Homo sapiens: one gene and its partners. The protein of the gene in region 1 interacts with the protein of each later gene in a biochemical or structural test. Each region holds a gene or a part of one and is shown in the gene's direction. Other genes may lie near its edges. The genes, in order: LIN7A, FZD4, PTPRZ1, RSBN1, SLC17A1, GPR12 and IGSF5.

The links.
Region 2: the proteins of LIN7A (region 1) and FZD4 interact in a test that uses a peptide from one of them, tested with the Homo sapiens proteins (one large-scale study listed by IntAct).
Region 3: the proteins of LIN7A (region 1) and PTPRZ1 interact in a test that uses a peptide from one of them, tested with the Homo sapiens proteins (one large-scale study listed by IntAct).
Region 4: the proteins of LIN7A (region 1) and RSBN1 interact in a test that uses a peptide from one of them, tested with the Homo sapiens proteins (one large-scale study listed by IntAct).
Region 5: the proteins of LIN7A (region 1) and SLC17A1 interact in a test that uses a peptide from one of them, tested with the Homo sapiens proteins (one large-scale study listed by IntAct).
Region 6: the proteins of LIN7A (region 1) and GPR12 interact in a test that uses a peptide from one of them, tested with the Homo sapiens proteins (one large-scale study listed by IntAct).
Region 7: the proteins of LIN7A (region 1) and IGSF5 interact in a test that uses a peptide from one of them, tested with the Homo sapiens proteins (one large-scale study listed by IntAct).

What each region holds. Positions count from the first base shown.
Region 1 is NC_000012.12:80,812,435-80,815,934, reverse strand, and holds part of LIN7A (protein lin-7 homolog A), read left to right. Parts: intron 1-3,500. UniProt on the Homo sapiens protein: Plays a role in establishing and maintaining the asymmetric distribution of channels and receptors at the plasma membrane of polarized cells.
Region 2 is NC_000011.10:86,948,896-86,952,395, reverse strand, and holds part of FZD4 (frizzled-4 precursor), read left to right. Parts: coding exon 1-1,254; 3' UTR 1,255-3,500. UniProt on the Homo sapiens protein: Receptor for Wnt proteins.
Region 3 is NC_000007.14:121,879,661-121,883,160, forward strand, and holds part of PTPRZ1 (receptor-type tyrosine-protein phosphatase zeta isoform 1 precursor), read left to right. Parts: intron 1-3,500. UniProt on the Homo sapiens protein: Protein tyrosine phosphatase that negatively regulates oligodendrocyte precursor proliferation in the embryonic spinal cord. Required for normal differentiation of the precursor cells into mature, fully myelinating oligodendrocytes.
Region 4 is NC_000001.11:113,761,332-113,764,404, reverse strand, and holds the end of RSBN1 (lysine-specific demethylase 9), read left to right. Parts: 3' UTR 1-2,573; downstream 2,574-3,073. UniProt on the Homo sapiens protein: Histone demethylase that specifically demethylates dimethylated 'Lys-20' of histone H4 (H4K20me2), thereby modulating chromosome architecture.
Region 5 is NC_000006.12:25,825,553-25,829,052, reverse strand, and holds part of SLC17A1 (sodium-dependent phosphate transport protein 1), read left to right. Parts: intron 1-2,419; coding exon 2,420-2,592; intron 2,593-3,500. UniProt on the Homo sapiens protein: Important for the resorption of phosphate by the kidney. May be involved in actively transporting phosphate into cells via Na(+) cotransport in the renal brush border membrane. Plays a role in urate transport in the kidney.
Region 6 is NC_000013.11:26,757,987-26,761,973, reverse strand, and holds the start of GPR12 (G-protein coupled receptor 12), read left to right. Parts: upstream 1-1,187; 5' UTR 1,188-1,395; intron 1,396-2,131; 5' UTR 2,132-2,146; coding exon 2,147-3,151; 3' UTR 3,152-3,987. UniProt on the Homo sapiens protein: Promotes neurite outgrowth and blocks myelin inhibition in neurons. Receptor with constitutive G(s) signaling activity that stimulates cyclic AMP production.
Region 7 is NC_000021.9:39,799,882-39,802,581, forward strand, and holds the end of IGSF5 (immunoglobulin superfamily member 5), read left to right. Parts: intron 1-1,380; coding exon 1,381-1,476; 3' UTR 1,477-2,200; downstream 2,201-2,700. UniProt on the Homo sapiens protein: Provides, together with MAGI1, an adhesion machinery at tight junctions, which may regulate the permeability of kidney glomerulus and small intestinal epithelial cells. Mediates calcium-independent homophilic cell adhesion.

The sequences.
Region 1 (3,500 bases):
CTTCTCTTTGGTCAAAATATTTCCTGGGTACCTACTATATACCCTCAGGCTGTTCTCATCACTCCTCACCTTCTTAATAAAATCCAATTTTACCAGACGTCCATTGCAAGGCCTTGTTAAATTAATTTATGCTAATGCAATAGGTACAACAAAACTCTTAAAGCAAGGGGATAAAACTTAAAAATATAGAATTTCAGCTTTTAAATGGAGGAGGGGGTTTCACTGTAAAATAAGAAGTCTTTTTAGAGCTCTTAAAGTCATATAAGAACCACCTTCTCAGCCTATGTAGGAAGCTGGTGCTACAAGTTTTCAGTGATTGCTCAAACTTACACTGGTTCTTATAAAAGACAACTCTGAATCAGGAGTGCTTGTATATACAGCTTTGATAAAAATAGCTTAACTGTTTATAAATAACCTATCACATTTCAAAATATGTCTTAAATATTTAGCTAGAAATGATGCATACTTTCATTAAGAGTGAGACACAGACTAAGTCAAAAGCAAGAATAGATGCTGAACTTTCAGGGCTCAAGGAATACCTGTGAAGGGCTTGCACATCAACATTTATACCCTAACTGAGTAGATCTTTTGGCTTCTTTTTATTCATGCAACAAGACTTCTGTGGCAAGATGGTTTGATTTCTTGTTCTTACCTTAAAAGGGAAAGAAAGAAGAAGAGAAAACTGCCTTATTCTTATTACAAAGTTATACTGATGGACTAAAAGCACTCCAGAGATAAATAATAGGTTAAGGAGACAAGCATATGTACTCAAAAGTATTTACAAAGTAGGCAAAGCTAGTGGGGAAAAAAAGGCCACAAAAATAATCCTTAAGACAAGATATGCTTCTGAAAACAATTAAAAAGCAAAGTTGAGGAGTGTTTGAAATAAAAATTTTTCAAGTATGCTTATATTTCTTAATATCTTTCTAAAATTCACTTCTTAGCTGCTTAATTATATAATTTGTAGGATGTTAGTAAAGCATTTCAGTAGTACAAATGAGGAACTGTGACACTGCCCAGATCTCTCATAGTGGCTCTGTGTCCTGGTGGGAAAGACAGTAGAGCCAAACCAACAGACCTGTTGACTCTGTTGAGCCTTAAAGAGAATCTGAGTCCTTGTCTAAACTGAAGATAAAGCATGAAGGCAAAATTTCTGGAATTGAAAACTGTGGAGTCTGCTTTTGATACATTGTTAACTGTGTGGGAGAGGGCAGAGCAGGGACTGGAAGAGGATAACCTTGATGGTTTTGCAGGGCCTGGTGTGTGGTGCACCAGCCAGCCGTTTTTCTCTCAACTCTTCACCACCACCGTGAGAGCCTAATGGCCCACACACATTAGTACCACAGCCCTCCTGTGGCAACTGAATCGCAGACACAGTGCCAAAACAGAGATAATGGGCCTCTAAAGGTCTGGCCTAGAATCTCCAACCCTATTAAATAAAAGCAAATAGAACAAAAGCCACGAAGAAGTCTACAGACTGATGATCTGGCCTAGAAACTGGGTGAACCATTATTAAAACATAAACATGTAAGTTTTAATATTAAAAAAGAAATTAGAGAAGGGTATGTAGACAACCAAATCACCAAGTTTTCCTTTCAAAGGAAAATTATATGCATTAACAAATCATCATGGGACCAGTTATAAAGAAATTACAAACATACTGAAAATAGGGTTTATATTGCACGATGCTGTCAAAGTTTACCTTCCTTTCATGTTTTCTCAAGAAACGTAGTAGACTATAATTCATAAAATAAATGCTTAATAAACATATTAGTTGAGTGGCTAAGCCAATGATCAAATGATCCCTTAAGTCTCCAAATCTGCAGTAGAAATTATGAATCTGAAGGTATAATTCAAGGGTGCTTAAGATTTCACTTCCTTTATTTTTCTGTAACTCAATTTAGTATCTTTTTGAGTTTCCCTTCTGCTTGGATTGTGAAAATGTAATGTCAAACAATTGAGGGTGGCCTTCTCTGCCTCTTCAGTGTGACTCCTAGGTCGTCTGACACTCTTTAACCTTATCTCAGTCTCCATCTATCACACTGCACAGTGATTTTTTTTCTCTGTACTTTACCCAAGAAGCAAGGCAAAAAGGCCTTGGCAGTTCAATCCTGTAAATTAAGGGTTCTGTCATCTGCCCTGGTGATCCGCTCAGAGGGGCAGGAGCCAGGGTTTCCTTATGTAGGGTCCTATAAAGTCTAATTACAACTTTCTTCTTTTTGCTTCTCCATCATCCTAACCTGGAGAATCTTCAGAAGATTGGGAAAAAAGCAGCATTGTGTTTACTTAGAGGAAGCATAGTTTCTCCAAGTATTGTCTACGCCATGATGTTCAAAAGACTGTTTTGAAACTCAAAAGCCAAGAATTGATTTGTTTTTTGTTTTCTGTATCTATCTTATAAGTATGTGTGCCTATTTGATTGTATCCTGAATAGATTTTTCTTAATATAAAATTATTCACTTATAATAAGGGCTTATTCAATGCATAACGATAGTGCCCTCCAGAAAAATTTCACCAGTTTTTGTTAAGTTATTAGCAGTCTGAGTCCAATTTTCCTACATCCTTGTCTGTACACCAAATTTTAAAATATATATTTATCATTTTTAAGTTAAAAATGAAATATTGACCAGGCACGGTGGCTTACGCCTGTAATCCCAGCACTTTGGGAGGCCGAGGTGGGCGGATCACAAGGTCAGGAGATCAAGACCATCCTGGCTAACATGGTGAAACCCTGTCTTTACTAAAAATAGAAAAAAATTAGCTGGGCGTGGTGGCAGGCACCTGTAGTCCCAGCTACTCGGGAGGCTGAGGCAGGAGAATGGCATGAACCCGGGAGGCGGAGCTTGCAGTGAGCCAAGATCGCGCCATTGCACTCTAGCCTGGGCAACAGAGCAAGACTCCGTCTCAAAAAAAAATATATCTGTATATTTATTTTTATGTCGGTCTATACTTCTTTGATTACTAGGGAGTTTGAATATCTTTTCTGAGGTCTATTGTCCATTTATATTTTTTATTTTTTGTCCATGCATGTCAACTGCTCATTCTGCTTAGATCTTTATTGACTTGTTAGAAGAATGAAGGGCAGGCTGGGTGTGGTGGCTCATGCCTGTACTCCCAGCAGCTTGAGAGGCTGAGGGAGGTGGATCGCTTGAGGTCAGGAGTTCAAGACCAGCCTGGCCAACATAGTGAAACGCCATCTCTACTAAAAATATAAAATTAGCCGGGCGTGGTGTTGCACACCTTTAATCCCAGCTACTCGAGAGGCTGAGGCAGGAGAATCTCTTGAACCCAGGAGGCGGAGGTGGTGGTGAGCCCAGATCAGGCCACTGCACACCAGCCTGGCCAACAAGAGTGAAACTCTGTCTCAAAAAAACAAAAAAGGGCAAATAAACCAGAAAAAAAACCCTTTTGCACTAAGTATATGACAGTCACATACTGAAACTGTTTTTCTGGTTTGCCTTTTTTTTTTTTTTTTTTTTTTTTTACAGTGTTTGAGACAT
Region 2 (3,500 bases), on another chromosome or scaffold:
TGTCTTTCAGTCAAGAGACGCTGTGAACCCGTCCTGAAGGAATTTGGATTTGCCTGGCCAGAGAGTCTGAACTGCAGCAAATTCCCACCACAGAACGACCACAACCACATGTGCATGGAAGGGCCAGGTGATGAAGAGGTGCCCTTACCTCACAAAACCCCCATCCAGCCTGGGGAAGAGTGTCACTCTGTGGGAACCAATTCTGATCAGTACATCTGGGTGAAAAGGAGCCTGAACTGTGTGCTCAAGTGTGGCTATGATGCTGGCTTATACAGCCGCTCAGCCAAGGAGTTCACTGATATCTGGATGGCTGTGTGGGCCAGCCTGTGTTTCATCTCCACTGCCTTCACAGTACTGACCTTCCTGATCGATTCTTCTAGGTTTTCCTACCCTGAGCGCCCCATCATATTTCTCAGTATGTGCTATAATATTTATAGCATTGCTTATATTGTCAGGCTGACTGTAGGCCGGGAAAGGATATCCTGTGATTTTGAAGAGGCAGCAGAACCTGTTCTCATCCAAGAAGGACTTAAGAACACAGGATGTGCAATAATTTTCTTGCTGATGTACTTTTTTGGAATGGCCAGCTCCATTTGGTGGGTTATTCTGACACTCACTTGGTTTTTGGCAGCAGGACTCAAATGGGGTCATGAAGCCATTGAAATGCACAGCTCTTATTTCCACATTGCAGCCTGGGCCATCCCCGCAGTGAAAACCATTGTCATCTTGATTATGAGACTGGTGGATGCAGATGAACTGACTGGCTTGTGCTATGTTGGAAACCAAAATCTCGATGCCCTCACCGGGTTCGTGGTGGCTCCCCTCTTTACTTATTTGGTCATTGGAACTTTGTTCATTGCTGCAGGTTTGGTGGCCTTGTTCAAAATTCGGTCAAATCTTCAAAAGGATGGGACAAAGACAGACAAGTTAGAAAGACTGATGGTCAAGATTGGGGTGTTCTCAGTACTGTACACAGTTCCTGCAACGTGTGTGATTGCCTGTTATTTTTATGAAATCTCCAACTGGGCACTTTTTCGGTATTCTGCAGATGATTCCAACATGGCTGTTGAAATGTTGAAAATTTTTATGTCTTTGTTGGTGGGCATCACTTCAGGCATGTGGATTTGGTCTGCCAAAACTCTTCACACGTGGCAGAAGTGTTCCAACAGATTGGTGAATTCTGGAAAGGTAAAGAGAGAGAAGAGAGGAAATGGTTGGGTGAAGCCTGGAAAAGGCAGTGAGACTGTGGTATAAGGCTAGTCAGCCTCCATGCTTTCTTCATTTTGAAGGGGGGAATGCCAGCATTTTGGAGGAAATTCTACTAAAAGTTTTATGCAGTGAATCTCAGTTTGAACAAACTAGCAACAATTAAGTGACCCCCGTCAACCCACTGCCTCCCACCCCGACCCCAGCATCAAAAAACCAATGATTTTGCTGCAGACTTTGGAATGATCCAAAATGGAAAAGCCAGTTAGAGGCTTTCAAAGCTGTGAAAAATCAAAACGTTGATCACTTTAGCAGGTTGCAGCTTGGAGCGTGGAGGTCCTGCCTAGATTCCAGGAAGTCCAGGGCGATACTGTTTTCCCCTGCAGGGTGGGATTTGAGCTGTGAGTTGGTAACTAGCAGGGAGAAATATTAACTTTTTTAACCCTTTACCATTTTAAATACTAACTGGGTCTTTCAGATAGCAAAGCAATCTATAAACACTGGAAACGCTGGGTTCAGAAAAGTGTTACAAGAGTTTTATAGTTTGGCTGATGTAACATAAACATCTTCTGTGGTGCGCTGTCTGCTGTTTAGAACTTTGTGGACTGCACTCCCAAGAAGTGGTGTTAGAATCTTTCAGTGCCTTTGTCATAAAACAGTTATTTGAACAAACAAAAGTACTGTACTCACACACATAAGGTATCCAGTGGATTTTTCTTCTCTGTCTTCCTCTCTTAAATTTCAACATCTCTCTTCTTGGCTGCTGCTGTTTTCTTCATTTTATGTTAATGACTCAAAAAAGGTATTTTTATAGAATTTTTGTACTGCAGCATGCTTAAAGAGGGGAAAAGGAAGGGTGATTCACTTTCTGACAATCACTTAATTCAGAGGAAAATGAGATTTACTAAGTTGACTTACCTGACGGACCCCAGAGACCTATTGCATTGAGCAGTGGGGACTTAATATATTTTACTTGTGTGATTGCATCTATGCAGACGCCAGTCTGGAAGAGCTGAAATGTTAAGTTTCTTGGCAACTTTGCATTCACACAGATTAGCTGTGTAATTTTTGTGTGTCAATTACAATTAAAAGCACATTGTTGGACCATGACATAGTATACTCAACTGACTTTAAAACTATGGTCAACTTCAACTTGCATTCTCAGAATGATAGTGCCTTTAAAAATTTTTTTATTTTTTAAAGCATAAGAATGTTATCAGAATCTGGTCTACTTAGGACAATGGAGACTTTTTCAGTTTTATAAAGGGAACTGAGGACAGCTAATCCAACTACTTGGTGCGTAATTGTTTCCTAGTAATTGGCAAAGGCTCCTTGTAAGATTTCACTGGAGGCAGTGTGGCCTGGAGTATTTATATGGTGCTTAATGAATCTCCAGAATGCCAGCCAGAAGCCTGATTGGTTAGTAGGGAATAAAGTGTAGACCATATGAAATGAACTGCAAACTCTAATAGCCCAGGTCTTAATTGCCTTTAGCAGAGGTATCCAAAGCTTTTAAAATTTATGCATACGTTCTTCACAAGGGGGTACCCCCAGCAGCCTCTCGAAAATTGCACTTCTCTTAAAACTGTAACTGGCCTTTCTCTTACCTTGCCTTAGGCGTTCTAATCATGAGATCTTGGGGACAAATTGACTATGTCACAGGTTGCTCTCCTTGTAACTCATACCTGTCTGCTTCAGCAACTGCTTTGCAATGACATTTATTTATTAATTCATGCCTTAAAAAAATAGGAAGGGAAGCTTTTTTTTTTCTTTTTTTTTTTTTCAATCACACTTTGTGGAAAAACATTTCCAGGGACTCAAAATTCCAAAAAGGTGGTCAAATTCTGGAAGTAAGCATTTCCTCTTTTTTAAAAATTTGGTTTGAGCCTTATGCCCATAGTTTGACATTTCCCTTTCTTCTTTCCTTTTTGTTTTTGTGTGGTTCTTGAGCTCTCTGACATCAAGATGCATGTAAAGTCGATTGTATGTTTTGGAAGGCAAAGTCTTGGCTTTTGAGACTGAAGTTAAGTGGGCACAGGTGGCCCCTGCTGCTGTGCCCAGTCTGAGTACCTTGGCTAGACTCTAGGTCAGGCTCCAGGAGCATGAGAATTGATCCCCAGAAGAACCATTTTAACTCCATCTGATACTCCATTGCCTATGAAATGTAAAATGTGAACTCCCTGTGCTGCTTGTAGACAGTTCCCATAACTGTCCACGGCCCTGGAGCACGCACCCAGGGGCAGAGCCTGCCCTTACTCACGCTCTGCTCTGGTGTCTTGGGAGTTGTGCAGGGA
Region 3 (3,500 bases), on another chromosome or scaffold:
ATGGGACATGGGATCAGTTAAAAATCTTCATAGGAGTCAAAAGCAGAAAAAAAGGAGATGATCTTTTGTTAGGATATTTGCTTTATTTTCTTCTCAACTACCTTCCTCCCTTCCTTTTTTCTTTCCCTCCTTCCTTCTATTTTTCCTTCCTTCCCCTTTCCTCCCTTCTTCCCTCCCTTCCTCCTTTTATCCTTCATTCCTTTAATCCTTCCTTCTTTTCTTTTTCTTTTTTTGTTGCTATTTCCTCTTCAGCTTCACTTTCTTTTAGCATGAGTTTAAGATAATTAAATAAACTTAAGTTTGCTCAGCACCTTGATGAAAAGTTTGATAGGGAAGAGATTAATGCTATTTGAAACCATTAGTTAAAAATATTTTTACTGTGTTAATATCATTTGGGGGTCTTTGTAGTTAACAAAATTTTTAAAGTATGAGTTGGCAGATGTTTTTGCCTAAATATTCCAGTGTGGTAAAATGGGCTGATTGTCTTTGTTTTCCCCTTCTGATATTTGCCCACAGATATTAAAGTAAACTCAGTTATTTTGGGTACTGGTTAATGTGAAGTTTTTGGCCTTATTCAATAAGTACAAGTCAATTTATGTGCATGCTAACAGGGGATAGTTTTTTTTACAAGTTTCCTTGGAAATGTAGTACTTGGGTACTTGGAAATAATTTATTCATTAGTAAGAAAGAAGGATTTTCTGTTAGAATATCCATAACTATGATGAGAATACAGATATTTTCCTGCTCTTGGAGAAACATTCTACCCTCTCTCTCTGCCTTCCCCTTTAGCACTTACTGGATAAATTTTCTACTTTTTCACTGTTACTGACTGAACTGCCTATTTCTTGAATCCTAAAGCTCTAATGTATTTACCTAAGGATGGGTCTCACTATGAGCTCTTTTCTCTGAACTGATTAACTCAGTACCTTGAGTAGGAATAAAATAAAACATTGATTTTTAAAATGACTCCTTTAAGCAGAGATCATGGTAATAAACAGAGTCTTGATTACATGCTTAGAACATGCTGGCCAGATATAAGGAAGTTTTTAGATTTTCTAATGGTTTTTATTCATATTGTCATCAGATTGAAAATTATTTCTATTATTAAATTTTTACCCACTTGCATTCTGACACATTTTCTTGAATAGGATATGTCAAGGTGGTATTGTCTCAGCTGCTACACAGAGTTGTGCAAAATCATGATCTGCCCAAAGGAGCATAAGGATACCCTTGAGGAGCATGTGGGATATTATTGTCATGTGTGTTTTAGTGCACAAAAACGCTGACAACCATTTATCTAGGTTGATAATTCTCAATCCTGGCTGCATTTTGAACTTACTTGGTGTTATGGACTGAATGTTTGTGTCCTCTCCAAAATTCATGTTGAAGCCCTAACCTGCCATTGTGATCGTATTTGGGGACAGGGCCTTTGCAGGGTAATTAGGTCATGAGGGTGAAGCTGTCATTGATGGGTTTAGTGTCTGTATAAGAAGAGAAAAAGACCAGAATCCTCTCTCTATTCACCATGTAAAGACACAGCAAGAAGGCAGCCATCTGCAATCCAGAAAGAGAGCCCTCGCCAGGAATCAAATCTGCTGGCCTTTTGATCTTAAACTTCCCAGCCTCCATATCTGTGAGAAATAAATGTCTGTTATGTTAGCCACCCAGTAAATGGTATTTTGTTATAGTAGCCCAAGCTGACTATGCACCTGGGAGACTTTTAAATCATACTGATGCCTGGGCATCAAATCAAGTACTTCATAATGTATGGGTGCTGAGCCCAGACATGGACATTTTCTTAAAACTCTCCAGGTGATTATAGAGCACAGCCTGGGACTGAAACCACAGATCTAGGCCAACTTCATGACACTACTAATCTTAGTTCATTTTTCTTAAGGTGGAGATATTTGCAGGTCTTATGCTGTCCTAAAACAAAGCTAGTGCCACAAGACAAAGGTCCTGGAAATTTTCCCTTCTCTCTCTCTTCTTAAGGCAGTTTCAGCTTCAGAGTAACCCTAGAAGGAGGAGTATGCTCTATGGTGATTGACCTCATAGTCTTTTAAAGCCAGGGAAACTTTAGGAGGCCAGGCAGTCTTGGAGTGGGTCCAAAGATTCAAGTCTATCAGCTGGTAGGAGGGTAAATGAACCAGCTTCCGAGATGGGGACTCCAAGTGACATTTATCCAGACACAAGCACATAATATCGTTCATTTCATCAATGATACATATTCTTGTTCTCTGTTATTTATTTTCTTTCTCCATGCATAATTTGTTAGAACTTGGCTTTTTGTTTACTGTTATGAAATAAATATTAAGATTTAGCTATTGCTTTTTCATTTTAGCAATTTGTGTGTTTTATGAAATTATTAATCAGGTATAGGCTATTTCTTTTTACTGTATTTGAAAAGCACCAATAACTCCATTTAAAAATTAACAATGAACTTTTCTAGGTGTTTCAAATAACTCCTTTAATATACTTATTAGTGATGATGCAAGTACAAATTAATTTAATGAATCATTTTTGAGCATCTTCCTTGGGATAAATATTCCTCCAGAGAGACTATTCTTCTCATGGCCAGCTGAACTTTTACAAGATAGAAAGATGCATACGTAAGTAGGTCTCATACATGATGGAGTTTCTGGCATATGAGACTGTGAGCTGTGTGGAGATATATTTAGTCTTAAATTCACCTCTTAGAAGGTTTCTAGTAGGAGATGGGATTGGATATAGACCATTCAGGATAAATGGATAGAGCTTCAGGGGTCACCATGGGAGCAGAAGGCATCAGAGGGATTAAGGTTGGCATGCAGAGAAACATGGACTGAAAGTGAGAACGTGGTAATTGGAGGGAGGGGACAGTGGGGAGAGGAGTATAACAGTAAAAGGTCTCAAATGGTAGGTAGGATTTACAATGGCCAATTGAAGAGTTTTGTGTTTGAAATCTACTCATTGTACAATGGGAAATTACTAAAGGGTTTTGAGCAGTGAAATGACTGGAATAGATCTCTTTATTTCAGGAAGATAACTCAGGTATCAGAGCATAGGATGGATTGAAGCCGAGGGAGACAGGGAATCAGGAAGCTTGGTTAAAAGCCTCTTACACGGTGGCAGTCACAGTGGAAATTTATAGATCATTTGGGATATAATAATATCATCCTCTTTATAGAATTCTTTAATGTTTAACAAGCACTTTCAGATACATTATCTCACTTGATATGAATGTAATTGGTATAATTGGTAGGACATTGTGCCATTCTCTGGAGTGAGTCACTGGTGATCCTTAAGGGAGTGTCTTCTCTGGGAAGGTGAAGATGTAGCATGGAACACAGGGAATCAGAGAAATATCCAGGAAGGAAAAGAGAAGGTAGCAAATACATACAAGTCCACAGAAGTTGATAACTTGGAGGGAAGAAAGAAGAGAGAGAAACAGAGGATGATCGCTTGAAACCTGATTATTTATTGAATGGTGAAACTCTTAAATTTGTTAAGACAAGGCAGTA
Region 4 (3,073 bases), on another chromosome or scaffold:
GCAGTGATTAGTTAGAATCTGTATTATTCCTTATATATATGTATATGTATGTATTCTCTGTTACAAAGGATGAAGACAAATAGGGATACATTTCAATGTAAACCATTTATGAATTGGAAGTGATGTTGGCTTTAGTTATCTTTGTAAATAAGGTAATTAGAATGGTATGAAAGGTAATGTGATTATTGCAGGGGTGTTTTTAAATCTTGGGTATAAATTCTAGGGTAAATTCCAGTTTATCCAGACTAGTTTTTAACGGGACCTGCCTTTGAGGGTGTTTTTTGTTATTTTGTTGGGGAGGGGTTTAATCACAAAGTGTGTGGGTTTGGGTTATTTCTTGTTTTTATTTTTCTGTCCAGAAGAGCTTTACCAGGCTGTGCAAAGTAAAATTCTTCTCAGGCAACATTTGCTTTTAAAAATAATCATGAAGAGAAGGCTGTTAAAGCAAAAATTTTTTTTTTTTAATTTTTTCTTGTCTTCCAAGATCCGATTTCCCCATCTCCCACTTGCCATCCAGCAGATGCCATCTGTCATCCAAGCTGGTCATTGCTAATAAACAAGGAGACTGTCTCCTGACAGCCAGCACTGTGTATTATCACTCAGGAACCAGCGGATCTGCAAAGACCTACAATCAAAAGCAAATCCCCATTTTCCTTTTATAAAACATTCTACCCTCACCTCCAATATAAACACATTAAAAGAGTACAATAAAAATGTTTAAAATCATGTACTAATAAATTCATTGTATGTTAGAATTGCAATAGAATGAAGAGAAACATTTAGCTAGTAACGTGATCTGAAAACTGAATGTCCTATGTGAGTATTAGATTTTAATAGCATGCTTTAAAGACTGATGAGTATAAAAGCAGAAGTTTTGCGTTTTTTACTGCTTTCAAAGCTGTATCCTAGTTTAGTGATACAAATGATTGCAATTTTTCTAAATCATTAAATTATTTGGTTTGGTGGAGTGAGGCATGGAGCAATCTGGCGTCTTCTGATTTGTTAAAGTAGTGATGGCAGTGAAGTTGTAACTGAAATTTAAGCTGATCTTCCTTTTTGGTATATTATCCGTTGTGCCAGCTCTTGAGATTACTTGCACAATGTGGCTATAAGTTTTAATATTTTGTGGAGCAGAGGGATGGTTTTTAAATGTGCTTATGGAAAGGACCCAATAAATGAATATTCCTAACTTAGTAAAGTAGAATAATTTCATGGTATTCATTAAAAAGCATAAAAGTCTTCCTCTTGCCCCAGAAGTAATTCTCTATACCAAGATATGCTAGGAGTAGGATGATGATTCAAAGTGGTAACCCAAATTCATAAAGCAATAATAATAAAAACCTATATAGTATGTTCTCTCCTCCAAAGTTTTAACTCTAAAAATTGGTTCCTAGGTTTAATTGTACCTTTAATTTGCTTATTCAGTACTTAGAATTTGTTTAACTGGTACTTTTATTATTTTTTAGTGAAAGACTTTTGAAAAGTGCCCTTTCCCCTTAAGAGACAGTTGGAATACCAGTTGACTAATATTACAAGCTCTTGTAGGGGGAAAAAGGAGCTTATTAAAGTTGTTTACTAAACTTTAGGAAAAGATGTCTTGCATCAGTCTTACTAGGCATAAAAGTCACACTTAATGACTGGAAAAAACTTGCTTATTGCCTTTCCCTATATAAATATTAATTGTCTAGAATGAAAGCTAATATAGGAACAAGACTCCCAAATCCATGAAAACGCTTAGTGAATATATTCTTAATCATTAATAAATTAGCCCATTATATTTTCATCTGTATTTGCCATAAAAAATTTATTTGCATTTATGCCTTTAGGATAATTTTGTATCTTTCTAATCTGTTTTATCATTGCTACAGGTTTTTAAAAAAGAACCTTTCACTAGCTAGCACATGCCAGAGGTTCACATCTGTTTTGTTTTTCAAACAGGTCGTAGCTGTATTTATTGGCCATGCAAGTAGAGGAAATGCACAGTACAAATGTTTTTCTTTAGCACGTAAGGGACCTATCCTTGTCTTGAAAGTTTGTTGCTTTAAAAGCAAGTATCTCTCCATAAATATTATGGCCTTCCATTTTCTTCATACATTTTTTAGGATCCACTTGTGCATGTAGTTGAGACCACTGTCTCTTAAAATATAGCACTTTTCAATTCTCTCTAAAGAAATACTTATGTACTACTATCACATGTTGTAAATTTTCATGTAATAGTGTTTTCTGTGAGTAAACTCCATTTTGATTGGCAGCTAAGACTTTTTTTCCTGTGGCTTTTATTTATCTAAGAGGTCTTTGCATATAGATGAAATGTATATTTGCCTGGCGGACTATTTGCGTTGTGTGGCCTTAGTTTGTTTATTGACATTAACGAGTGTTTTAAAAAGGTTTTTAATGAATAGTCTTAAATCTAAATTTGTGTGAATAATCCTTTTAACACAGTGCTTTTTTGTAGCTGTCTAAGTGTGTTAAATTGTTAAGCTATTTCTTTGTAAAATAGGACAATGGAATGCATAGTTTTTTTTTTTCCTGTAAAGTATTTTTTTAATAAAAAAAGTCTGATTTGTCCTTTACTGGTGTTTCATCACAAAATGCATAGCATATGTGAGTTCTAAATACCTGGAACCTGTTTTTAGAGGACGAATCCCTCACCTACTGTATCCCCTACTACTTCAAAAAAAATTTTTAGAAAATCTTATGACTTCTTTCCTAAAGATGTCTGGGGAAAATTCCATCCATATTGAGATGCAATTAGTTTGGGGGAAGAAGAAAAAATACACTTGACATTTGTTGTAGTTAATGCCTCTTAATTGCTTAAATTGGTGTGTATCTACTTAAAAGAGGACAGTCTTAAATTTTTATTCTGGTGATGTGGATTTTCTTGAAAGTGCATTGAGTATTAATGAAGATGGCGTATAGACTTTTATGTCATTGATGTATTAATGTGACACAACAAAATGGATTTCTTTCCTCATCAGTTTTTGTGTGAAGTTATCTTTAATTGAGGTACCTGTCCTAAGCACTGATAGCCTTTGGTTCTGTCTAGGAAAGGAAAAGAAAGGGACTTCACATT
Region 5 (3,500 bases), on another chromosome or scaffold:
CACCCATGCTTTTAAAAAAATGGTTTATTTTAAGCATATTTTATCTAATATTCTTATCTTTTAACAACGGAAGCTCAGTTGGCCAGAAAACTAGCCAACTATTTGTTGGGTACTAATGCTTTTTTTCATTTAACAGTTTATCTAAAGAGTATTCCACAATTTTTGGCAGAGATTTTCCTTAGCATTTTTATAGCTGCAAATGACTTTGGTATGGATGGATATATTATAATTTATTTAAATGGTCACTGATTTATAAACATCTAATTTGTTTACAGTCTTTTGCTAGTTCAAACGATTCTATAAGAATGTTGCAAAATGATATAAAATTCAATTCGGTAAGATGATGTAAAATATTTATTATCTAATAAAATAGCTTCCAATATATAAAGCAAAATAGTCTTATGAAAATTATAAAGACACCAAATCCTAAATAAAATATTAACAGAACAAAACAAATCTAAGAATTTATAAAAACATTAAAAAAGCAACCACCAACACTAAGTCAGGTTTATTCTTAAAATAAAAGAGTAACTTAATGTTAGAAAATGTATACATGTCACTCCACACAAATTAATTGAAAGAGGAAAACAGTATGATTATCTCAATAGATATAAAAAATCTATTTATTTATGATATTAATATTTATTTGCAATAAAAAATTCTTAGTTAACTATGAATGTGCAGTAGACAGAATTCCAAGATGGCACCCAAGCTCCCTGGCCCCTGTTTTATTCTTGGGTGGAACAATGAGCACAGAGGATACAGCCCAAAGCCCAGAGGGTGGAGCCAAGAGCCACAAGAATTATCTCCAGACCTTATGAAAAATCCAACATTGGCCTGGCTGAACTTCAGAACCTTTATGGATCGATGACTCCTTTTCTCCTCTATTTTTCCCACCTTGGAACTGGAATGTCTATAGCTTTATCCTACACCTGTTCCACCATTACGTGGTAAAAGTGTTAGGGGCATATAACTTGTCTCTTTAGTTTCACAAGCCCACAGATAGAAATTGTGCCCTAGGAGGGATTAATCATAGGCCCCTCTTCCACACCTGATTTAGATGATGAGATTTTGGACTTTGTGCTATGAGATTTTGATGAGGTTTTGAACTTGAGCTGATAATGTAATAAGATGAAGAATTTGGGAAGCTTGAAATGGGTGAATATGTTTTGCACGTGAAATGAACATGAGTCTTTAAGGGCCAGATGGTGGACTGTAGTAGGCAGAATTCTAAGTTTTCTCTCAAGATTCCCAGCCCCTGGTGTATACACACTTTCTCCCAGTTATTTAAGCAAACATTAAGCTAGGTGCTGCTTCAAGGGGTTTTGCAGATGTATTATGGTCCCAAATCAGTTAATCTTAAATAGCGAAATTATGCAGTTAGGAGAGATCTAATCACATGAGCCCTTTAAATCTGGTTGTACAGGTCAGAGGCAGAGTAGCTAGATTCAAAGTGTGAGAGGGATTCAACATAAAGTAGGTTCCCATTGCTGATTTTGGAGATGGAGGGGGCCATATAGATTAACTTTGCCTGTTTTTGAACTTCATAAAACTAGATTCCTATAGTATATACTGTCTGGTATCTAGCTTCTTTAACTGAACATGTTTTTGTTGAAATTCATCCAGATTTATCCAAATTGTTGTGTATAAGTAGTTCTTTCCTTTTATTTCTGAGTAATATGCATTGTATTAACATACCATGATATGTCCATTCTTTCCAAACATTCTGCTATTTTGAATAAATCTACTATAAACATTTCTGTATGTGTTGTTTTGTAGACATATACCTGTATTTCTCTTGAAAAAAATGCCATTTGTTGAAAAACACTTTACTTTCCTCCAATGGATTGCATTAGTACATTTATTTTTAAAAAGTTAACCATATATGTGTATCTGTTTCTGGACTCCCTACTTTCTTCCATCAATGAACTTGTTTGGCTGTACACCAACTGATTACTCTAGCTTATATCAATAAGTAATTACATTTTTTTAAAATGCCATTTTTTTCTCTGCATTGGGCATATATAAGTCTTTCAACCAGAGTATTTTTTAAATGTTGGAAAAGGAATAGTTTTCTTGACAGAAAATGTCTTTGTTGTAATTAGGGGGACTTATGTCCAAGAGTAACACAGGGTATTTATAAAGGGTCTTTTAAAAAATAGACTTGAGCCAAAGAACTTGAAAGATTGGCTTGATTTTCTTGGAACTTCTAGCTGGAAATACAATTTTAAGGAGAATATGGTATTATTATATCAGTCTCACATCTTCTTATTATATAATAATTATCAAAGGTCATTAAGTACAATAAAATTTTAAATTAATATCTAGGGCTCCAAATTTCTGAATGTCCCTCCTATAGTTAAAGTATGTTTTTATCTCAGCTCTGTCAGCAATTGCGACTTTCTGTTTTACTTTGTAGTTCCAGGTTTCTGTTCCTTTCGCTATGGATTGTCTTTCCTTGTGCACTGTTGTAATGTTATAATAACAGCACAGCGTGCGTGCCTGAACCTCACAATGGTAGTCATGGTGAATAGCACAGATCCACATGGTTTGCCCAACACCTCCACAAAGAAGCTCCTGGATAATATAAAGGTACATCAATAATTTTCCCCACAGTCAAATGTTTAAAAGCCTGTCTTGCTAACTAATTTGTGTAGATATGGAATTGTACTGATATGATACTATATTTGAAAAAGAAGCTCAAGTCTTCATCTACCTTGCCAGGAGTGACCTAAATAAAATGTCCCATGATTAAAGTATGCCTCAGTATTTCTGAAGGGCTTGTTGTGTAAATCCTTCTATGTGAGAGAGAATAAAACCCAAGAGTTAGGGCTTCTTTACAATCAAGAAATTTGGACAAGAGGAAAAAAAGGGAAAGCATTTTAAATTAGGAGTGGAAGGTGAAGACACATTACATTTTTAAAGTTTTTGACTTGCAGGATATTTAAATGTTTCATTAATTTCATCTCTGGAAGATAATCAGTTGTTATCTACCAGAAGATGTAGATGCAGCAAAAAATAAAAACAAGATAGGTAATGTCAGTAAAGAGATGGAAACTATAAAAAGAATGAAAAAGCAATACTAGAAATCAAGGAAATTATAACAAAGAATGCTTTTGAGGGGCTCATCAGTAGACTCCACACCACTGAGGAAATAATTAGTGAACATGAATATGGGTCAATAGAAACTCCCAAAGTTGAAATGCAAAGAGAAAGAGAATTTTAAAAAATTAACAGATCTTTCCCAAATTGTAGACAGTATCAAATGGTGTAACATGTGCATGACCAGAATGCCAGAGAGAATAGGAAACAAGAAATATTTTTTTCAAAAATTGGCTGAGAACTTTCCATAATTAATGACAAACATCAAACCACAGATCCAAGAAGCTCAGAGAACACCAAACAAGATAAATAGCAAAAACAAAAACAAAGAAAAGCCACCTAGGCATACCATATTTAAATTGCAGAAAACCAAGACAAAAAGAACATTTCAATAAAAC
Region 6 (3,987 bases), on another chromosome or scaffold:
TGATGAGAAGTGGCATGCAGGGAGAGCTGGAGTGACCTTGCAGAGCCAGAAACTGATTGATGGAAGAAGGGAAGGAGAAGCGGGAAGAAAGTCAAGGGTGATTGAGGCTCCGAATCTGTTGGGCTGGGGTAGAGAAGACGTGAGCACCAGGGGAAGGCAGGCTGGTCAGCTGATGATGCCCCTGTAGGGTCCCTTGCCTGCAGACCATCTCCATTCATACAAGAGCCCCTGGGCAAGTGGAAGAAAAGCAGTGGGAAAACCTTCACCTCTGACAGGGCAAGACAAGACTATCACACTTTTTCCTTATCCCATCTTTAAACTGGAGGATCATCTTGGAACTTAAGATCTATGAGGTGCTCTGGTTTTTATATCCAGAGGAGGCATGGGATCATAAAAGCAGACAGCTATCAGGTTCTTCATCTTAGAATCCATTGATGTGGCAAAATGAAAAAATAAATTAATAGTGCCACTTCAGTATCTAAATGAATTGGGGTTTGGCCAATGTCTGCAGGAAGCTTCTACAAGAACTCAGTAAATGATTTCCATTTGAAAACACAGCTCAAAGAGCGCTTAATAAGTGCAATTTGGTGATGATAATGATGATCCACAGAGCAGCAGCATCTATCCAGTCAAGCAAATGTTCCTGGGGAACAGTGATAATGAACCAGGTCCAGGACCATGGGCAATTCTAAAAGAGCGTGCGGGGCATTTTGTTGTTTTAAAGATCTGCTTCCCTAACCTGTCCACCCCGCATCCCTGCTGCTGATCGTGAATATCATCCTAAGCAATTCTTTTGGCCCTGAATGTAGTGGTTTAGGTAAAGGCGTGGAAAAGCCAGGACTGTAGAGACTTGGAGCTCCCCAGGGAAACCACAGGAACGAAATAGGTCACAGGGCTCCAGGCAGCGCTCCCCTGCCCCGCCCGGTGCAAGCCCGGGGCCGCCGGCTGGGGTGGGGCGCGCAGCGCGGCAGGCAGGCAGGGCTACCATGCAGTTCTCAGCCTCCTGGCTCCTTCGCCCCTCGCCCCGCGCCCCTGGGCCGCCCTCGCCTGCCCGCACCCTAGAGCAGCCCTGACCCGTGGGGGCGCGCGGCCTCGCGGGGATCCCGCGGGCGGGCGGGCGGCCGGGCGCGCGCGGGGCGGGGGCGGCGCGCGCGCGGGGAGCGTGTGGGCCGGGCGGGCGCGGCGGGGAAAGCTGGGCGCGCGAGCCGAGGCTGCTGCTCACCTGCAGCCGCGCCGCTCACCTGCCGCGGAGTGCGCGCCCCGCGCCCTCCCGGCCCGCTCCGGAGCCCGGCCGCCCCCCCCTTGCCACAGCGGGCAACTGCGCCGACATGCGACACGAGTAGCCCACGCGCTTCGGAAGCACCGGAGGAGCCCCCTCGGCCTGGGCGAGCCAAGGTGACCCCCTCGATGACCCCCCCGCCCCCGCGGGCCGCCTGTCCCCGCACCCTGTCTGTCCCCCTCGCGTCCGACTCCCGTCCCCGCCGCCAGGGAATCGGCAGCAGTGCATGGGCATCTGTCTGTCTGTCTGTCTCGGTACTTCCATTGCACACACCTCCCTCTCGTGGCCCTCCCGACTGCCCCGTGCGCACGGGGGGAGTCTGGAGCCCCTCTTTGTTCCGGTCGGGGGTGCGTTTGAGGATGTGCACGCGCGCGGGGGATGCGTTTGGAGGGTGGGAGTTCGATGGAAATAGGCGATTTAAATATTCCATCGAGGATGGCGGCCCCTGGCTCGAGACCTGCCGCTGCCGCGTGGTTTTCTCGGCAGCAGCCCAGATGTCAAACAGTTGTTCGTTTTCAGCATGCAAGATGTGATTTTCCAATGTGCATTCCCAGCGCTGTTGCAAACAGACCGCCGCGAGTCCGTGTGTGCCTGCCTCGCTCACGCTGGTGTTTTGAAGTCCTACCCTGTGTTTTCCCCAATGCCAAACGGCATTTTTGTTGTGGGGTTTAAACCACAGAGACTTTGGCTTTTGTTTCATTTCCCAACAGTTCCTCATTCCCGAAGCTTGTGGCATTTGGTACTGGTATCTGAGCAGGGGCTGGCTTTCTGTTTGTCTGTGTGTTTTTTGCATGATCTTGGATTGTCACCCTGCTGTATTTAAACATTAAAAAGCCTGTCTTTTCGTTGAAGAGGACAGGGGTTAAAATGAATGAAGACCTGAAGGTCAATTTAAGCGGGCTGCCTCGGGATTATTTAGATGCCGCTGCTGCGGAGAACATCTCGGCTGCTGTCTCCTCCCGGGTTCCTGCCGTAGAGCCAGAGCCTGAGCTCGTAGTCAACCCCTGGGACATTGTCTTGTGTACCTCGGGAACCCTCATCTCCTGTGAAAATGCCATTGTGGTCCTTATCATCTTCCACAACCCCAGCCTGCGAGCACCCATGTTCCTGCTAATAGGCAGCCTGGCTCTTGCAGACCTGCTGGCCGGCATTGGACTCATCACCAATTTTGTTTTTGCCTACCTGCTTCAGTCAGAAGCCACCAAGCTGGTCACGATCGGCCTCATTGTCGCCTCTTTCTCTGCCTCTGTCTGCAGCTTGCTGGCTATCACTGTTGACCGCTACCTCTCACTGTACTACGCTCTGACGTACCATTCGGAGAGGACGGTCACGTTTACCTATGTCATGCTCGTCATGCTCTGGGGGACCTCCATCTGCCTGGGGCTGCTGCCCGTCATGGGCTGGAACTGCCTCCGAGACGAGTCCACCTGCAGCGTGGTCAGACCGCTCACCAAGAACAACGCGGCCATCCTCTCGGTGTCCTTCCTCTTCATGTTTGCGCTCATGCTTCAGCTCTACATCCAGATCTGTAAGATTGTGATGAGGCACGCCCATCAGATAGCCCTGCAGCACCACTTCCTGGCCACGTCGCACTATGTGACCACCCGGAAAGGGGTCTCCACCCTGGCTATCATCCTGGGGACGTTTGCTGCTTGCTGGATGCCTTTCACCCTCTATTCCTTGATAGCGGATTACACCTACCCCTCCATCTATACCTACGCCACCCTCCTGCCCGCCACCTACAATTCCATCATCAACCCTGTCATATATGCTTTCAGAAACCAAGAGATCCAGAAAGCGCTCTGTCTCATTTGCTGCGGCTGCATCCCGTCCAGTCTCGCCCAGAGAGCGCGCTCGCCCAGTGATGTGTAGCACCCTTGCACCCAGGAGGACTCTGCATTTACCAAGCACTTCCACTGCCTGGCCAAGGTTTGAGATGCTTCCCTTGAATTCCTTGCATTGGATTCCCTCTCAAGCCACAGGAGCACTTAGCATTCGTGAAACAATGACATCGTTCAGATGAGTTAAGTGATTGAAGTGAAAATAATGTTACCAGTGTTTTCACCATTAAAAAAAATTGTTGAGCTCTCCACTCAACATTATTTTGTTTTGCTTGGGGGCAAGGGTTTCCTTTTATACTTTGTTTGGAGGGCTGACTGGGGGTAGGAAAGGAAGGGATATGATACGCCCATGATGTTATTAGAAGTAAATGAGTTTCAGAGTTTTTACCTGGACTTTAAAATAAATTTGAGTGATTGAGGAAAATTGAGAAAGACTTACTTTTTCCAGACTATTTTTTTTTTTTACATGATGGTAGATTTTTTAATGCTGCATGTATGTAACAGAATATGACCCCTTTCAATCCAATACAAATAGTTTACATAATTGTGTTTGGAAGGGACCTGATTTTGCTAACATGAACTCAGTAATGTCACCGACACTGAAACCGTGAACCCATTCTTATCCATTCTTTCTTTCCTTTCGGCAATTACTGTTCACGAGAATTCCTTCGGTATTTCTATAAATGTTGCAACTCCTTCTGCATGGTCGACTGTGTTAGCTAGACCACTTGTTTCAAATGTTGCCATGTCAATCTAGATTCCAACGGGTCATTTTTCAATATAGTTTTCCAATATGTACTTTCTAAAATGAATCCTGAAGTAGGTTTTGATCTTCATATGAAGTAGGATTGATTAGATCCACCATTG
Region 7 (2,700 bases), on another chromosome or scaffold:
CAGAAGGAAAAAAGAGATTCATTTTCAAAACTGTCATATACAATATGACAATTTTCTTCTCTGATTATTTCTCTGATGACTGAATCTACAGTTAGAATATGTAGTACTGACATGGTTTTCTAGACAAGAGTTTCCCTGTTGGTGAAACAGAATGAATTTGGGTGCAACTGCAGCTGAAACACATTAGGGTAAAAGTAATAAGTAAAATTAGAAATTCCTACTAAAATAACCAATTACTGGGAAAGGCATGCTTTTTTATTTCAATATGAAGCCAGGGGATTTGCAAATGTTTTTTATTTTGGCGAATATTTAAAACAAAGAATCCTCCTTTTCCTCTCTTTGTCCTGTGCCTTAACTCACTGTCAGTGCATTTTCCTGGCTGTTTTAGGAAATTCTCTGTCTCTGTCATTTTCAGAAGATGGGCATATAAACAACTTGAGACCTGGATCAAGCCTTCCCCACAAATCACCCCCTCATTGAGACAAACAGAAATACATACTTGATAAATTTAGAAAACAGCGATGTTTGCACAACCCAGCAGTGAAAACAAAAGCAAACGACAGTAGGAATCTCTAGCATATTAGCAGCAGAAGGCACATGTCTTAAAGCACTGCTGACATAGTTCCATCCGCTGTCCAGTTTTCCCTGTGTTATTGGGAGTCAACAAATTAAGAGCGTGAGCCAGAGTAATTCTATCCTCAAGACTTGCTAGCATTCCATCACATTGTGAATAATTTATCATGCCCAGTTACATTATTTAAGATGTTAAGTGCAGCTATTGTGCCCTGGAACCTGAGCTGCCATTCTCAGGACTGGCAGGAAAAAAGTGTTGCACACATTTTAATAAGGCAATATTATGAGACAGGCATTGGCCACTCTGGAGGATTAAATGGTTTGTTTGGGATTACATTTCTGAATGAGAACAGGGAAGACTATGTTTCTCCCTGATAGGGAAAAGAGACAGGTGGGTGATCTATCTGGAGTCAGTTCTTCAATTTTGTCCCCCTGTTCTAGAAACAATGCACGCTCTTTAAGAAGTTTAGAAATATTTTATATTTTCATAAAAAATCTAGCCAGTAAAGCAAGAACTTCCTTAGGAAAATTGAAACACAAAACAAAACAATGAGTCGTGGTAATTTGCCTTAGTCAAAACAAATACTGATTCTTGGAATTGGATTGCCCTTTAGGGCCTGAACTTGGAAAACTTCTATATTGTGTGTTACCAGAAATAATGCAAGAAAGGAAGAGCTTATTTTAACATTTTTGTTCCTCTCCGTACCTTAATTTTATCTTAACAGATGAGTGAAGCTCTCTTTTCAAGTTTGCATTTTACAGTGATCTCAACCCATTAAATTGACTTTTTTCCTCCTCTGTTGCCAGCGGGCTGATCAACGTCCACCCAGGCCAGCAAGTCATCCACAGGCTTCTTTTAATCTGGCCAGTCCTGAGAAGGTCAGTAATACAACTGTAGTATAGCAAAGCCTTCCCCAAGCTCCACTGAGCACTTGGCTGACAATTCAAAACACGGCGATGGCATCCTTCCTTTCCATCCTAAGACTGGCCTGCAGCTTTGCCAACATTACCTGAAGAGGAGATGTCGGAGTCATCAGAACTGATACTTGACAGTGAGAGAAGGAATCGATTTTCCCAGAGTTCAAAGTAGAATGTGACTTTTAAGAGGTTTCATGGTTTTTGTGAATTCCATGAAGTTACTAAGTAAAAGCTGCAAATTCATCATAATTTTTCTCAACATTCAACACTCCTACTTGTTAATCCAACAAATGGTAGATAAAAGTCTGTATTCTACCATGCCTTTCAAAAGTTTTTATTATCTGAAAGCATATGAAGATGATATTTATGTATATTTAATATGTAGGGGTATTATTACATATTATCAGTGAAATACGAGTATAAAAATTAGGGTCAACCAGAAATCTGCAATTGACTGTCAAAACTGAGCTCAGTTAAAGTAAGATTCAATTCTAACATGGATGTGCACGTTCCTAAATATCTTATGATTGAATATTTACATGAAGGCATTCATTTTTATCTGCCCCTTTATCAGACCTATTTGCATCTCCTCAAATGAATTAGATGTGGCCTATGCTTTGCAGAGGATGGACCTCACCTACTCCGCACACCGTGAAAAAACTGGAAATGGGCATTGTAGTCTTTAATTAATAAAAACACCAAAAATGTGTATTGCCTTTCTTAACTCTTCACTATTCAGTTGGTCATTTAAAGAATCATAGTATTCGGGAATCAAGCCTTTTCCGAGAAGGAAAACAAGAGCCTTCTGCAAAAATCCATCACATCTTCACAATTATCTTTGCTGACTGTACATTCACTTCATTTAAAGTTAACATGAATGTTGTTATGAAGAATAAATTGCTGCCTTTCCCCAGTATTTTTCTTTTTCCATGTAGATACAGTCAGTGAATTTAACTGCCCATTCCACCCCTTCATATTTAACCTAGGGGCAAGACTGTGATTTGACCGTACTCTGAACTGGTTGGTGCAGATTTCTATGCTGGTTATAATTAGCAACTGCTTTGAGTCCCTCAAGCTCAACCATGCTATTGCTAAAGCAGAATTTGACTTTTAAAATATGTCAGGATTTTAGTGAATTCCTTACGGATACTTAGTAATAGATGCAAATTTGTCATGGTGTTTCTAATCACTCACTCCTGCTTGCTAATC